Regions from separate parts of the Homo sapiens genome. Here region 1 is linked to region 2. Evidence: fine-mapped expression QTL. Tissue or cell type: non-classical monocytes. Region 2 holds a variant in brackets; the other region holds the start of a gene. All regions are shown on one strand. Distances are between the middles of the regions.

Region 1 (8,505 bases), 53 kb before region 2:
GCGAGGCCAGGCGCGGTGGCTCATGCCTGTAATCCCAGCACTTTGGGAGGCCGAGGTGGGCAGATCATGAGGTCAGGATTTCGAGACCAGCCTGACCAACATGGTGAAACCCCATCTTTACTAAATATACAAGAATTAGCCGGGCGTGGTGGCGGACACCTGTAATCCCAGCACTTTGGGAGGCCGAGGTGGGCAGATCATGAGGTCAGGATTTCGAGACCAGCCTGACCAACATGGTGAAACCCCATCTTTACTAAATATACAAGAATTAGCCGGGCGTGGTGGCGGACACCTGTAATCCCAGCTACTCAGGAGGCTGTGGCAGGAGAATCCCTTGAACCCGGGAGGCAGGGATTGCAGTGAGCCGAGATTGTGCCATTGCACTCCAGCTTGGCTGACAGAGTGAGACTCCATCTCAAAAAAATAAAAAATAAAAAAGATGGCGAGGCTTAAGAGGAGGTGGTGGGGCAGAGGCCTCGGGGACCTAAAGGGAGAGGAGTCAAGGGTGACCAGAAGATTCCTAGTTGAGTCACAAATCAATGAAGCCCAGAACTGCTGGAAAGTTCTAGACCTACGGATACTCCCAGTCACAGCAAGGCACCCTGAGATCAGCGCTTTAACATAAAATTGCAATGAGTGTCCTAAAATCCCAGGCAGCTGCAGATTCAGGAGATGATTCCAAGGCTGCCTTTGTACCCTAACAATCACAAGGCTCCTAGCAGCTTACTCTCCATAACGCTCCATGTAGCCCGAGAGCCCTGCATGCTGGAGCTCACCAGACATCCTTATAAAAATCCCAAGGGCCCTTTCCTTTGGATGCAATTCCTCAACTGTAGAATATTAAATAACTCGCCGGGTGTGGTGGCTCATGCCTGTAATCCCAGAACTTTGGGAGGCCGAGCGCTGGTAGATCACCTGAGGTCAGGAGTTCAAGACCAACCTGGGCAACATGATGAAACCCTGTCTCTACTAAAAATACAAAAATTAGCTGGGCGCAGTGGCATATGCCTGTAATCCCAGCTAGTAGGGAGGCTGAGGCAGGAGAATCACTTCAGCCCAAGAGGTGGAGGTTGCAGTGAGCTGAGATTGTGTCATTGCACTCCAGCCTGGGCAACAGAGCAAGACTCCATCTCAAAAAAAAAAAAAAGAAAAAAGAAAAAAAGAATACTATATAACCCCAGGTGTTGCCAAAGATGTTCACTCTGAATTGAACTCCAAAGTCTTCCAGAAGTCTGTTTATCACAAAACAGTCTGTCTCCAAAGTAGAAGCAAAGATAAAGAACTGTTTGTTGAATGGCTGACTGATGTCCACTGCAAGCTGAGCGCATTAACCAAATTTCACTTGGAAGACTATGCATGTGGCAAAATTAAATGCACCAATAGTACTAAATAAAGGTAGGCAGGAAGGCACCTAATGTACTACAATAGCTTGTATAACATCAGCCTCATCCAGTGATCAAGGTGACCAAATAAATTATCTTTAACACACACACACACACACACACAGAGTATAGACTCCAAAGTTTCCATTGTAAGACAAATTCTCTGACACTAGTGCACACTTGATGCCCTGGATCCTCAAGACATCACCGGGTGCCGGGTGCAGGGGCTCACGCCTATAATCCCAGCACTTTGGGAGCCCAAGGTGGGCGGATCACGAGGTCAGGAGTTCAAGATCAGCCTGGCCAACATAGTGAAACCCCGTCTCTACTAAAAATACAAAAAAAAATTAGCTGGATATGGTGCCAGGTGCCTGTAATCCCAGTTACTTGGGAGGTTGAGGCAAGGAGAGTCACTTGAACCTGGGAGGTGGAGGTTGCAGTGAGCCGAGATCGTGCCACTGCACTCCAGCCTGGGTGACAGCACGAGACTCCATCTCAAAAAAAAAAAAAAAAAAAAAAGACATCACTGGTTTTGGTGAGAAGAGACAGCACACATCTGCCTGGCACTGGGCTGCTCTTCTTTGGAGACAGAGGGTACAATTTATATCCTGCAGTTTTACTCAACAGGGGATACCACCAGCAGTTTGGCCAGGGTAATGCTGTATGGGACTGTCCCCTACACCATGTAAATTGGGCATTTACAATTCTTAACCACATCCTCCCAAATGCCAGTGAGTCATTGAGAAAACCTGAAACACCCCCATGCATTTTCAAACGCCCCCTAGGGTTGCCACACTATCTCCGGTGAAGAACCCTCGCAGTATTCACCGATGAAGTTCTTCTCTATAAATACTCTGTTTTCCTACCTGGTAAAAATAATGACTGCCCGTACTTGTCCATCTGATGTGGTATAAAGAAATAATCTTTTTTTTTTTTCAAAGAAGCAACACGTCAAATAAGCCTTCTATGTTCTAGAGTTCACTGCTGTTTTTCAGCAGAAACAAATCACTGAGCTAAATTACAAAGAGACCATAGCAATCTCCAGGGCTTTAAAAGGCTGATGCAGTATTTTTTCTTGGAGAATTTAAAAATAAAATGCAGTTCAAACTCTAGAACCTACAGTGAGGTTTTTCTCATAAATTCTGGAACATCGCAAGTTCTAGAAATCAAGCCCTGAAGAATGAGAGTACCAAGGCAAAGAACCCTCAGAACAAAGATTATGCAAAAGGATCACTGGTGATTTTCTATTTTTACATGAATTATAATGGCAGTGAAATAAAACTTGCCCTTCTGAACTCCACCCCCATACTTGTGCTACGATTATTAAAGTACGTTGCATTGTGAATATACTTTAATTCCAAGACTTTAAGTGCTAACATTTAGACAGAATGTACTAAGTTATATTAATCAAATTTTTAGTATTAAACCTTTCTCTACCATAAAGTAAATCCTTTAAAAAAAAAAAAAAGTCCAATCCTTCTCAACCCAAGAAATATGCCCAAGGGTATCTACAGGAATGGCTGCAGTAACTGGCAAACGCTGGCAGGAATTTTCCAATGACTGAAGTCAACAAATCCTCAGGAAACATGCTCAGACAGATGGCACTTAAAAAAAAGCAAAAACAAAAACAACAAAAAAAAACCTACTGCATTTAGATTTATAGGAAGATTTTTCACTTACTTCAAATTTCTGTATAATCCTCGTTCCTCTAAGTTAAAGGGGGAAAGAAAATCACACTGCAATTCCTTATTTTTCTAATTTAAAAAACAAAACAAAACACGTTATACCCTCGAATCCAGCTTTTGATGTCTTCGAGTATTTTCTTGGAGTCTCTTTCCAATGAATACTACTTTCAAATTCTAAGCACAAAGTAAAATCCCAAAAGTTAGCCCAAATAGCGTTGTACAAAATCAAAGATCACGATGTCAGCAAGCAACTGCATCTATCAGAAGCGATGATGATTCAGAACAGGATAAATTTAGAATGGTGTTTTCCAAAAGGCTTTTTGGATGTCAAATTCAGGAAACAGGTAAAGGCTACATCCCAAAAGTTCCTCTCCAAAAAGAACGCCAAAATATTAATAAAAAGAGTCTTCTTTTTGAAGTTTTTCGTCCCCTAGTGTCCTCGAGGCTGAACTTCCCCAACCTGGCCTCGGTGGAGCCATCCATTACTGGGCAAATCCACATGAAACCTGAGGACACTTCAGCCTGGGGAGGACGCAGTCAGAGCAGTGAAGCAACTTCACATGGGACGGGCCTTTTATGGCCTGAACTCGAGAGCCTTGATACCAGCTCATCTACCAGAAATAGCCCTGGAAATTCAGAGGAGCCCATCAGCTGTTGCAGCAGGCCTGGCCAGCAGCTACTTCAAATGCAATTAGGTTGTCCACACTGTCTTTCAGCTTGTTGTATAGAGAAATTAAAAATACAACAGCAGTCTACTGAATAAGCTACAACAATACAGATTTGGATGAGCAAACATTTCTCTAACTTAGTTTTTTTAGGCTAAAAAAAGAGCACACAATCGTTGACAAAGCTCAGACACTGAACACCCCAAAAGTAAGTAACAGACATATATACAATGAATGCCCGAAAAGTAACTAACAGACATACACATCTATGAAACAGCATGATATAATGGCACATGTCTCTACAAGTTTACAAATTCTGTAACCTCTGTGGATTTCTTCCCACTTCCAATAACTGTAGAAAATGAATCATCAGAAGAAAGCATTGTGCTGGAAGTACTTTCTCGAAAATGACACAAATATTTTCTCTTAAAGCCAAAGTCAGTCCTCTGAACTGGCAAGATCTATCTTCCTATGGCTCTCAGGTAGCTCACCTCACTGAAAAACCAGATGAACCTAACCTAATGAAAAAAATATTAACTATGAAGCACAACCACTTCTTAAATGGCCATATGCATTTTTTTAAACATTAAAAGGCCACTGACATGTTGAATACACTCAAACAAATATCACAACCCTGTTTACAAAATACTTACAATTGTAGGTCTCTGTCCCTGTCGGTACCAAGAACAGAGAGTCTTAATTGTCTGCACCAACTTCAGTATAAACCACAAACCCCATAAGACTTGGGCTGGAGTACAGCAAAAGCTGTGTGCTGCGCGGGGCCTCCCAGTGGTATGCCTCTGGGTGTCAGGGTTCTCAGACCACCAGCTGCTTCGGCCAGCACAGGAGGCCTCTCAAAGCAGGATCTAAATTCCTGTTACTAATTAACCCTACAGAACAATGCCTCTCCCTAAGAGGACAGTCCTGAGGCCAGGTGAAAAGATGACAGGTATAATAATTAAACATTGGCTTCATGACTGTTTTGTGCTAGGGGTATTTGTCCCAGTCAACTGTTTTTTTTTTTTTTTACCCATCTCAAGATAACAAACAAACAAAATTTCATAGCATGGCTTTTGCATCCTAATCTCAGTCCTGACCCTGATCTTCTTTTCCCTTGGACCATATTGGCTTTTTCCTCATTTTAAAGTTTATTTGATCTTGTTTTACGTATTTTTATAAGCTGTGGTAAGCCCCTCCCTAGAGAAAAGTAGGGCAAAAATAAATAAAAACTTACATGAAACAGTTCACTATTTGGGTCTTCTCTGTAAAGAGAAGATAGGAGGAGAAAATGAATCACTGTTACCACAATAGTGCTATTTCCTTCCTAAAAAAAGATTCACTCCCACAAAATAAACATCAGTCTTTTGTGTGCCTCTTAAGTTTTTGCACACTGCTTCCCCATAGCAACCAAACTGTCCTAGATTAATACACTGGAGTCTAATAGGGTAAATCTCCTTCGTCACTTCTTTTATATATCCTTTCTGTCTTTGATTATTTAAATCCCAGTTAATTCTTCCTGTGCAATCCATTTACTTTCCTAATTTTTTTGCTATCTGCCTGGCTTAGAAGACTCATCATACTCACTTCTTTCCAATGATGATAATCATGAATTGGAAGAAAAATCAACACACAAAAGATGTCAATTGTCCCCAAACTGATCTACAGATTAACAAAATTCCTATCAAAATCTTGCAAGGTTTTTTTGTTTTGTTTTGTTTTGTTTTGTTTTTTTGAGACATGGTCTTGCTCTGTTGTCCAGGCTGGAGTAGAGGTGTGCAATCATGGCTCACTGCAGCCTCAACCTCCCCAGGAGGCAGTCCTCCTGCCTCAGCCTCCTGAATATCTGGGGCTACAGATGTGCACCACCACACTGGGCTAATTTTTTAATTTCTTAGTTTTTGTAGAGATGGAGTCTCATTAGGTTGGCCAGGCTTGTCTTGAACTCCTGGGCTCCAGCTGTCCTCCCACTTCGGCCTTCTTAAGTGCTAGGATTACAGGTGTGAGCCACCCTGCCTGGCCTCACAGTGATTTTTGGCAGATATTCTAAAATTTATAGTAAAGGTACAGGCCCTAGAATAGCTAAAAACCATCTTGAAAAAGAAGAAAAAAGTTAGTCTGGGCGTGGTGGCTCATGCCTGTAATCCCAGCACTTTGGTAGGCCGAGGCGGGTGGATCACCTGAGGTCAGGAGTTCGAGACCAGCCTAATGAACATGGTGAAACACTGTCTCTATCAAAAATACAGAAAAATTAGCCAGGCGTGGTGGTGCACACCTGTAATCCCAGTTACTAGGGAGGCTAAGGCAGGAGCATCGCTTGAACCCAATCCTGGGAGGCAGAGGTTGCAGTGAGCCAAGATCATGCCACTGCACTCCAGCCTGGGCCACAGAGTGAGACTCCGTCTCAAAAGAAGAAAAAAGTTAGAGCAATGAATCTATCCCATATTAAGGCCTACTGGATAACTACAGTAATCAAGACAACACAGCATTGGCAAAAAGAGAGACACATAACATAGATCAGTGGAACAGACTGGAGAACCCAGAGACAGGCCCACATGAATATGCCAAACTGATTTCTGTGCCATTCAACAAACAGTGCTAGAGCAATTAGACACCCCTAGGCAAAAGCAATGAGCTTCTACCCAATCCTCATTGTGGTACATCCATACCATGGAATACTACTCAACAATAAAAAGGAACAAATTATTAGTACGTTCCACGACCTGGATAAGAATCCAGGGAATTAAATTATGCTGAGTGACAGAAAGCCAATCCCAAAATGTTAGATACTATACGAGTACACTTACATAGCATTTCCCAGATGACAACATTATAGAAATGGAGAAGAGATGGGAGTTGTTAGAGGTTAGGGATGGGGATGAGGTGGTTTAACAGGGCCACATGAGAGACCCCTGTTCTGGAACTCTTCTATTGGATTGACCACATCAGTGTCAATATCCTGGTTGTGATACTATTGTATAGCTTTGCAAGATGTTATCACTGGAGAAACTGGGTAAAAAGCCCTCATGATCACTTTGTACTATTTCTTACAACTACATCTGAATCTATAATTATCTCAAAATTAAAAGTTTAAGCAGGGCGGGGTGGCTCACACCTGTAATCCCAGAACTTTGGGAGGCTGTGGCGGATGGATTACCTGAGGTCAGGAGATTGAGAACATCCTAGCCAACGTGGTGAAACCCTGTCTCTACTAAAAATACAAAAATTAGCCAGGCATGGTGGCTGGCATGTGCCTGTAATCCCAGCTTCTCGGGAGGCTGAGGCAGGAGAATTGCTTGAACCCGGGAGGCGGAGGTTGCAGTGAGCTGAGATCATGCCATTGCACTCCAGCCTGGGTGACAAGGGTGAAACTCTGTCTCAAAAAAAAAAAAAGTTTAATTAAGTATTTTTTCCAAGGAAAAAGCATCCCAACCCCAAAAAACAAACCTACTTCAAATGAAACTTTCAAATATAATCCATTTGTAAATGGGTGACTTACTGTAACTGTACTTCACATAAATCTATAGAGATTTACTTATTATCAATGCCATCTTACGAATTTCAAACTGGAAATATTTATTTTTCCCTATAAGAATGAAAGTTAATCCGAAAGTAAAATATTTGATACAGAATAAGAAATGGAAAGCATTGCTTTCCAATTGAATGTGTTTATTTAGCAGGCTGTGTAGATACTTAAAAAGAGCACCTCTAATACCTAGGGCCCATCCAAAAATAAAAAAGGAAACCTGCACATAATTTTCAGAAATTTCATCTACTGCCCCAGATTATTAATTTTTAAAACCTGACCAACTCTGGAGAAATAGCAAGAAAACAACTTTTTGGAAAGGGAGGAGATCGGGTCATCTCAATTTTTGATTATATTTCATTTTTAGAGACAGGTTCTCACTATTTGGCTCAGGCTGGTCTTGAACTCTTGGGCTTATGTGATCCTCCTGCCTCAGCCACCTGAGTAGCTGGGATAACGAAAGTGTGTCACTGCACTGGTCTTCCAATGTGAATACTGCTATAAATATAATAGAAAACAAGTTTTTGAAATCTGTTCTCTAGAACTCTTCCCCTTTCTTTTTTGTTTTTCTTTTTCTTGAGACAGAATCTCACTCTGTCACCAGGCTGGAGTGCAGTGGCGCGATCTTGGCTCACTGCAATTTCCTCCTCCCGAGTTCAAGTGATTCTCCTGCCTCAGCCTCCGGAGTAGCTGGGACTACAGGTGTGCGCTAGCACACTCAGCTAAGTTTTGTATTTTTAGTACGACGGGGTTTCACCATGTTGGCCAGGATGGTCTCGATCTCTCGATTTCGTGATCTGCTCACCTCAGCCTCCCAAAGTGATGAGATTACAGGCATGAGCCACTGCGCCTGGCCCTTTTTTTTTTTTTTTTTGAGATGGAGTTTCACTCTTGCTGCCTAGGCTGGAGTGTAATGCACGATCTCGGCTCACTGCAACCTTCACCTCCCAAGTTCAAGCGATTCTCCTACCTCAGCCTCCCAAGTAGCTGGGATCACAGGCAGATGCCACCACATCTGGCTAATTTTTGTATTTTTAGTAGACAGGGTTTCACCATGTTGGCCAAGCTGGTCTCGAACTTCTAACCTCGCGTGATCTGCCCGCCTTGGCCTCCCAAAGTGCTGAGATTACAGGCGTGAGCCACCACACCCAGCTGAACTCTTTATTCTTGAAAATAAATAGATGATATAACAGTTCAGCCTTCCCAGAAGTGGAATGGGCAGATGGAGGTTTCAGGGCCCTTTATCTTCT
Region 2 (8,505 bases):
AAGTCACCCCAAATCATGACAGAAGCACCAGAAATTACAAGTGCCATAATTGAGTTGAACATCTTTGCGTAATTTTTTTAATGTGTGAAAACAAAAAGCCAACCACCCCCACCGAAAAAAACTCCAAAAAACTCTGCTTCCTTTGGGCCATCAATAGAGAAACTGTAGAATTCCTTTTGGTTAAAATAGACCTAGGAAGATTCAGTTTGACCAACTCCAGTTCAGGGAGGCTCTTCTGCAGCAACATCCTTGTCAGACAAACACAGAGTTTCTATAGTGTGAACCAAAAAGTATCTGAGACAGGTCTCAGTCAATTTAGAAGTTTATTTTGCCAAGGTTATGGATCATGACCTGTGACACAGACTCAAGAGCTCCTGAGAACATGTACCCAAGGCGGTTGGGTTACAGCTTGGTTTTATGTGCTTTACAGAGACAGAAGACATTAATCAATACATGGAAGGTATACACTGGTTCGATCCAGAAAGGCGGGACAACTTGGGGGGTGGGGGCTTACAGGTCATAGGTGGAGTCAAAGATTTTCTGTCTGGAAATTGGTTGAAAGAGTTAAGTTATTGTCTAAAGACCTGGAATAAACAGAAAGGAGAGGAGTGTTTGGGTTAATATGGGGGTTGTGGAGGCAAAAGTTCTTATGTAGATGAAGTCTCATAGTCTCATAGGTGGCTGCCCCCAAACGCAATAGATGGTCAATGCTTCCTATGCAGACCGTTAAAAGGTGCTAGACTCTCAGCCAATCTCTTCAGTATTAGGAAAAGACCTGGAAAGGGAAAGGATTCTCTATGGAATGTAAATTTCTCCCAAAAGAAACAGCTTTACAAAGCTATTTCAAAATATGTCAAAGGGATAAAATACTGTGATTTGTTTTCAGTGCCTGCTATGGACCATATGATGCTACAGTAGAGTCAGGTTGGAATTTGGTATCTTACTGTTCTGTCAGTCTTAGGACCTTTATTTTTTTTTAACTTTTATTTTAGGTTCAGGGGTATTACACGTGCAGGTTTATTACGTAGGTAAAACTGTGTGTCACAGGGGTTTGGTGTACAGATCATCACCCAGGTAGGAAGCGTAGTACCCAATGAGTATTTTTTCTGATCTTTTCTCTCCCCCAAGCCTCCACTCTCAAGTAGGCCCCAGTATCTGTTGTTCCCCTCCTAGTATCCAGGTGTTCCCATTGTTTAGCTTCCACTTATGCATGAGTACATACGGTATTTGGTTTTCTGTTCCTGCATTAGTTTGCTAAGGATAATGGCCTCCAGCTCTATCCATGTTGCTGCAAAGGACATGATCTCGTTCTTTCTCATGTCTGTGTAGTATTCCATAGTGTATATGCACCACATGTTCTTTATCTAGTCTACTACCATTGATGGGCATTTAGGTTGATTCCATGTCTTGCTATTGAGAATGGTGTTGTGATGAACATATGTGTACATGTGCCCTTATGGCAGAACAATGTATACACGTTTGGGTCTATAGCCAGTAATGGGATTGCTGGGTCAAATGTTAATTCTGCTTTAAGTTCTTCAAGGAATTGTCACACTGCTTTCCACGATGAACTAATTTACACTCTCACCAACAATGTATAAGCATTTCCTTTTCTCCACAACCTCGCCGGCATCTGTTATTTTCTGACTTTTTAACAGTAGCCATTCTGACTGGTGTGAAATGGTATCTCACTGTGGTTTTGACTTGCATTTCTCTAATGATTAGTGATGCTGAGCATTTTTTTACATGCTTGTTGGCCACGTGTATGTCTTCTTTTGAAAAGTTAATGCTGGTCAGTTGTTTGCCTGAACTCCAAAGGGAGGAGAGTGTAATGAGGCATGCCTGACCCTCCCTTTCCATCATGATCTGAACTAATTTTTCAGGTTTTGTTGGGTCCCTTGGCTGAGAGGATGTTCCATTCAGTCACTTGGCTTAGAATTTAATCTTTGGTTTACAATAGAAATATCTCCATCAATGGAGAGCTTCGTCCAGGCCAGGCAACCCATTCATTAGTCAGTCAGATGTTCAAAAAATCCTCCTTATACTGAATTCAAATCTGTTTCTTTATATCTTCCACCCATTGGCCCTAGGACCAATTTGCCTAACAAAGTAGATCAATATGAATTTAAATATGGTTTATTTTTAACTATAAATCCAATCATTAGGCAGAGCAACTTGAAGTAGAGAGAAAAAATAAACTGATACTTTCAGAATGGACAAGCAAGGAACCTGTGATTAAAATGAGTTCCTACACTTTAGTGGTCTTCCTGTAACCTCTATCTTGGAAATTCTTTCATAATCCCTATAAATGTGAGGCTGTCACACAGAACAAGCTGGGAATCAGGCCCAGGAACATGGTCTAAGGAAAGGAGTCAACTGCTTTGATGGTAACACCTTAATCCTCAGGTAGACCTACCTGGAAAAGCTTATTTAAGAAGAACATTTTAAGTTTTGTTTTTAAAAAGTCCATCTCACACAATGAAATTAGAGTGGTACCAGTTGTTATTATAACAGAAAATGTCTAAAACTCTCAGTTTTGTCTTTGCTGCTACTGCAGCTGAACTCCACATGATACTGCAAACATATTCCGAAATCATCAATAATTACCTTTTCTTCCGCTAGTCAAAACTCAGTGAGAATCCACCATCTCTTCATGGGCTTCTCCTTCAGTTTTAGAAAGCAACCAATCTCCAATGTAGCCAGAATCTGGGGGAGAAAAGTTTTAAAAAAATCATAGGATGTAATTTCCAAAGCCTAGAAATATATACTTAAATGAAATGGAATGAATCGGTTTGCATTTAACCTCTGGAAATACCGCACTGCTTCTTACTTTATCAATATTCCTCACTTCCATATGACCAGCACAGTAGGATTTGAAACTGACACACAATTTCTAGAATCCTCTAGATTTTTCCTACTTGGTAATTTAAATCATGACTAAAATTGTTTTGATTGAATCCACTTTAACCAGGCTTTGCCATTACTTCTTGCAAACAACCACGTGCAAGGGAATATTTAAAAAAATCTCAAGACCCCCAAACTCCTTACGCAAAATAAAAGATTAAGCCTGGAGGCTGAGTCATGCAACACCCTCTTTCAAATGAAGAGCTGTTACTAGCATTATCCAGAGGAGAAGGCCTCAGGACTGCCTCCATAGGTAAGTAAACTTTTTGCTGCCCTCCCATAAACAAGGACATGCCAATTGTAATTTTATGTTTACAATCTAAGTCTAGCTCTTAAAACTAAAGTCTATTCGATTCCGCACTGATAATGTCAATTACAAGCTTATCTTCCCTGGTATAGAACAAAGACAAGACCAGATCAATCATTCCTCCACCTACCCAAAAACTCTGCATAATTGATTCTTCCTTTATTCCCTTTTTTCTCTTCAAACATTCACCTTACCGTATGCAAAATGTAGATTTACTGGGCACTAAATAAAATCTCCCAAAAATGTCAAGTTTGGCCAGGTGAGGTGGTTCATGCCTGTAATCCCAACACTTTGGGAGGCTGAGGCAGGTGAATCACCTGAGGTCAGCAGTTTCAAACCAGCCTTGCCAACATGGCAAAACCCCCGTCTCTACCAAAAATACAAAAATTAGGCAGCCGTGGTAGTGCACACTTGTGCTGAGGCAGGAGGATTGCTTCAATCTGGGAAGGGAGGTTGCAGTTAGCCAAGATCGCGCCACCGCACTCCAGCCTGGGTGACAGAGTTGAGACTCTTTCTCAATAAACAAACAAACAAAAACCCCGTAAATTTGCTTTACCACCTACCTGCCCCTTTTTCTACAATGCCTTCCCCCTTTAAGAAAAGGTATAAATACTAAACCTCCTGAAAACTTCTTTGGAATAACAGCCACAGGTCTGTCTATGGCATTTGTTTTTCCCCTGGATTATGCCCTTAAGATGGCTTAATAAACTCATCGACTGAGACTTTTGCCTCAGTCACTA[A/AT]TTTGGTTATCACAAGTTACTCCCAGTTTCAGCAATGGATAGTTCCCTTTCTTGCCCAATAACCGCCCTAGTTCTGGGGTAAGCCATGAGAAACAAGCATTGCAAATAGTTCACACACATATGCAGAAGCAGCAATGACACTTTCCCCGGTAGAAGGGGAAAGTGTCAATTACGCTTCATTTATCTAGATAAGGGGTAGAAAATCTAATTATAATGGTTGAACAAACTATTTTCCCCCAAAGACACATTGAAAATTTCCAAGCTTCTGAATATAAATGAAAAGTGCAGAAATGTCTAATAATGTAGCATTAGCTAATTCAGTTTGTGGATGCTTCGAGGCGGTGAGGCAGTGAGCCTGACTGTCTCCCCTCAGGGGATGATTGATGGCTTAGCTCTCTGGAGACGGTTGGTCTGACCAGTGCAACGTCAGAAGCCAAAGGTCACCATACCTCCCAGGTGATCAGATGCTCCCTAGAGTGTGGCAGGGGCAGCCAAGCATCTGAAGATGCCGTTCAGATCCCACTGGGATTTCTGCCTCGTTCCCTGCTTTCTTTGTTATTTAACACCAGGCTCCCTGGGATCGCTATTTGCCCAGCTTGGCAGCAGCAAAAGCCAAGTTCTAATTTTCTTTTGTTCCTCTCTGTTTCACTTAGCTGGGCTCTTTGCCTTAGTTTGTTTCTTCCTGTTTACAGCAGTGGCAAAAGTCATTTGAGCACTGAAATGCACACAGAACTGAGCTACAAGTGTGAGGAGCTCTTTTTAAAAAATTATCTATCTACAAAAATGTCTAGGGTAACACGGCCCAAAAAAACATAAAAAAATCTCTGAAGTATGGAGATGCTCAGTTGCCCAGTGATCAGGATGTGTATCAGTATGTTTTAATATATTTAAATATGTTTTAAGTATATGTTTTAATACACTTATTATGTGCTATCAGCTATTAGGAAAGGTAAATGTGAAAACAGAGAAAAATGTTAAGTTTACAATATATATGCAAACATTTATGAGATAAGACTAGTGAAAAGAGCAGAATTTAAAATTTTACCAAAGTGCTGTTTACAACTTTACCCAGAGCATAATTACATATGGATGAAGATACTGAAATCATAAAAGGCACATATATATACAGTGCAAATAAACTAAAAGAAGGAGTTGTTGATATTTGCTAAGCTCTAGGAATTATGCAAACAGTGATATAGCTCTTCCCCAACTCAAAATATCCAATTTAGAATCACAGAATGAGTAGAAGGGACCTTAGCTCAACTTTTTCTTTTCACAGATAAGTAAATTTATGCCAAAAGGAAGTGATTCATCCATGCGTATACAGCTACCCACTGGCAGAACTGAGGCTAGAACTGGTATCTCCCCGACTCATGAGTCTCTTTTCTTTGTTTTCTTTTTTTTTTGAGACAGAGTCTCGCACTATCACCCAGGCTGGAGTGCCCTGGCGCGATCTCAGCTCTCTGCAACCTCCGCCTCCCGGGTTCATGTGATTCTCCTGCCTCAGCTTCCCGAGTAGTGGGGATTACAGGCACACACCAACACATCCGGCTAACTTTTTGTATTTTTAGTAGAGATGGGGTTTCACTATATTGGCCAGGCTGGTCTCGAACTCCTGACCTCGTGATCTGCCCATCTCGGCCTCCCAAAGTGCTGGGATTACAGGCGCGAGCCACCGCGCCCAGCCGAGTCTCTTTTTCATACTGCATACTGCAATGCATTCATACACACAGGTCAGGGAGCCCTTGTTATTGGAGTATTCATGACCCAAATCCCTACAAATGATGGGCTTGTTCAGGGAAGCACACCTTCAAAATACTAAAATATTTCCAAATAGCCATTTTTTTGACTTGAGTCCCTCTTAAAAATCCATCATTGTTCAAAGTCAGCCTCTATCCCTAATTCTGTTAGTGACTGTCTCGTACCTCCCACAGATGTATGTCCACTGCAGAGCAACACTGCAAAACTTTCCCCCAAATACAGAATTTCATGAGGCTAATCAAAATGGCATTAGAGAATTTCCCCAATAACAGGTAAAACAATGGCCAGTGGGAGCTGAGCAGTTTGATTAGGAAACAATCACTTCAGAGAAAAATCTAACGTTGGTGACAAGATAGAACTTTCTACAGTGATTTTAGTATTTAAAAATCTAAACGGCTCCAGAGGAAAATGACCAAGACCTTGAATATCTTTGTAACACTGGTCATCTTTATGCTGTGATGTAAATGTCAATTGTGATATAAAAAGTACCAAAATGTAGAATCGCCTCATTTTATACAAAAAATTTACTCCTTTCAAAATAATCAACACTTGACTTTCACACTGCTCATTCTAAGAGCTAGCCATAGTCACAATGATCACCTAAATTTTGATAAATGTATGCTAAAATAACTTATTTTCATAGTTTTCAGTTAATTTTTTTCATGATAAAGTCCCAAAGCTTTTTTTCATTATATGAAATGTTGGTCCCCATTTAAGTGGATTGACCTTAAATGGCCTTTTTTCTGGTTCTCATTATCCTTGGATAACAAGGATCTGCTGTTGAATCTTCAGAAAGAAGTTTTAGAAGTATAAGTCAGTAATATGGAGGCTATTTATATCATTTAGAACCAAGCATACATTTCAGAAGCAGAACTTCAGATCAGAATATGCAATACTAGAAGGCCCTATGTTTTTATTTCACCTGTCTGTCATAAAAAATAATGAATTTTATATTTTAATTTATATAAAATAAAAACAAAGATTACAAAATCACAAATGACTACATTTGTCTCAATTCTTTTAAAAAAGGTGAAAGCATAATAATGTATTTATCATCCTGAATTACATAATTAAGTTTCCAGTTTTAATATCCTATTTCATTCGAACACAACCCATGAGAACACCTGCATATGGTTGTTAATCATTGCTGATTTGCATATTGTGATTAGTTCCATCATCTGCAATTATCTGGGGTTCTGTATAATTCATGGTCTGAACTTTACCTGAGAACAATCAAGTTGGCTGATTTTTCTTACGTTCAAATGTTTTTTATATGAAGATAGTTAATATTCAGGGCTAACATTCATTCGTTCAGATAATGAAAGCTATTCTAGTATCATAAAACGCAAAGCTTCATTTTAGAAGCATCAATTATTCAGTGGAACATTTTCTTCTGGAAGAGTAAAAAGACTAAAAGAATATTTTTCCCATTAAATAAAACTGCAATGTTCTATAGTAGAAAGATTTTTTTTTCTCTTACTTTTCAATCTGTAACAGTATTTGGAGCCTAAATGACCAATAATGAACAATGTAAAGTATGTTGGATAATGAATAATTTTTTTTTTTTTTTTTGAGACGGAGTCTCACTCTGTCGCCCAGGCTGGAGTGCAGTGGTGCGATCTCGGCTCACTGCAAGCTCCACCTCCCAGGTTCACGCCATTCTCCAGCCTCAGCCTCCCGAGTAGCTGGGACTACAGGCGCCCACCACCACGCCCGGCTAATTTTTTGTATTTTTAGTAGAGACGGTGTTTCACCGTGTTAGGCAGGATGGTCTCGATCTCCTGACCTCGTGATCCACCCACCTGGGCCTCCCAAAGTGCTGGGATTACAGGCGTGAGCCACCGCGCCCAGCCCCAATAATGAATAATTTTTAAAGATTCTTTTCTTGGCGACGCTCCAGCTTCTGTGACCAAAATAATAAATAATTTATGATTTAGTTTGTCCACTAATCCTGTCTCAGAGATCAAGACAAAGATTTTTGACTCAGTCTTTCTGCCAAATTTGCTTATCTCTCAAATGAGTGTAAATTTATGGCTCAGGATTAAGACATGACTAATAGTTCCTTCCAGGTTTCCAAGGACAACAAACCCCCCATCTACCCCGGCCAACAGATGCTGGAGAGCAAAGATTACGGAATCCCTGTAACACTCTGTTATAGGTAGACACTCGAATTATCTCACCACTGTTGTCTACAAACAAGAAGAAAAATAAGCTCAAATCACCCTTTCAAATAACTGAGCAGCACGCTAAGGAAAACAGATGAGCTGCTCAGCTCTGGTCCCCTTCCTGGAATGAAATTAGCACCCATCTGGAAGTTGGATCAGCCAATAAGCAACTGGAAACACAGGAAACAGGGGAATCCCTGCCGCAGCTCACTCAGCTAAGACACTGTCAACCTCAGTGAAGAACCTCAGTTGCTTTACAGCTACAAAAAGAAGGTTCTCATGCCAGAAACCTTCGTCAAATCATAGAAAACAAAGAATCGTGAACTTGGTTTCTTGTTTTTGGCATTCTGGCTTACAAGTAGAAGCAAGTAGAGGTTCGTCAACATGAAAACTGCCTTTTAAAGGAAATGCATTACTAGACTCACTAACAACCATATGAGACGATGTGATTTTCATGACAAAGCCGATGAACTCTCCCTGGTTCTGCTCAGCAGAAGGATGGAGACAGAACATTCCACCCCGTATGAGCAGGTGAGCTCAGGAATCCCATTGCATTCAGCCACTTCCTAACTTGGGCAAGTTTAATCTCTCAAAACCTCTTTCCTCTTCTGGAAAATAAGCACAGGAA

Direction of the effects. Positions count from the first base shown, and alleles are read on the strand shown. Sizes are in standard deviations (SD) of each study's normalised expression.
For the expression in non-classical monocytes of the gene that starts at base 3,614 in region 1, AT is the low allele of the variant in region 2 and A is the other (large effect, 0.77 SD a copy in Schmiedel 2018).

Evidence for each region. PIP is the estimated chance that this variant, and not a neighbour inherited with it, causes the effect.
Region 1: it holds the start of SVIL, and the variant in region 2 is fine-mapped to the expression of SVIL in non-classical monocytes (Schmiedel 2018, PIP 0.95).

The regions. Positions count from the first base shown.
Region 1 is chr10:29,631,358-29,639,862 of GRCh38, forward strand. SVIL (supervillin) reads right to left here and starts at 3,614. Exons shown (of 38, transcript NM_021738.3): 1 at 3,063-3,614. RefSeq lists a silencer at 3,423-3,717 and an enhancer at 7,665-8,166.
Region 2 is chr10:29,683,946-29,692,450 of GRCh38, forward strand. It overlaps a transcript of SVIL not described here. Among named protein-coding and RNA genes, the nearest start is that of SVIL, 53 kb to the left of the region's middle. RefSeq lists an enhancer at 4,215-4,833. The variant A/AT (reference allele first, on the strand shown) is at 3,952.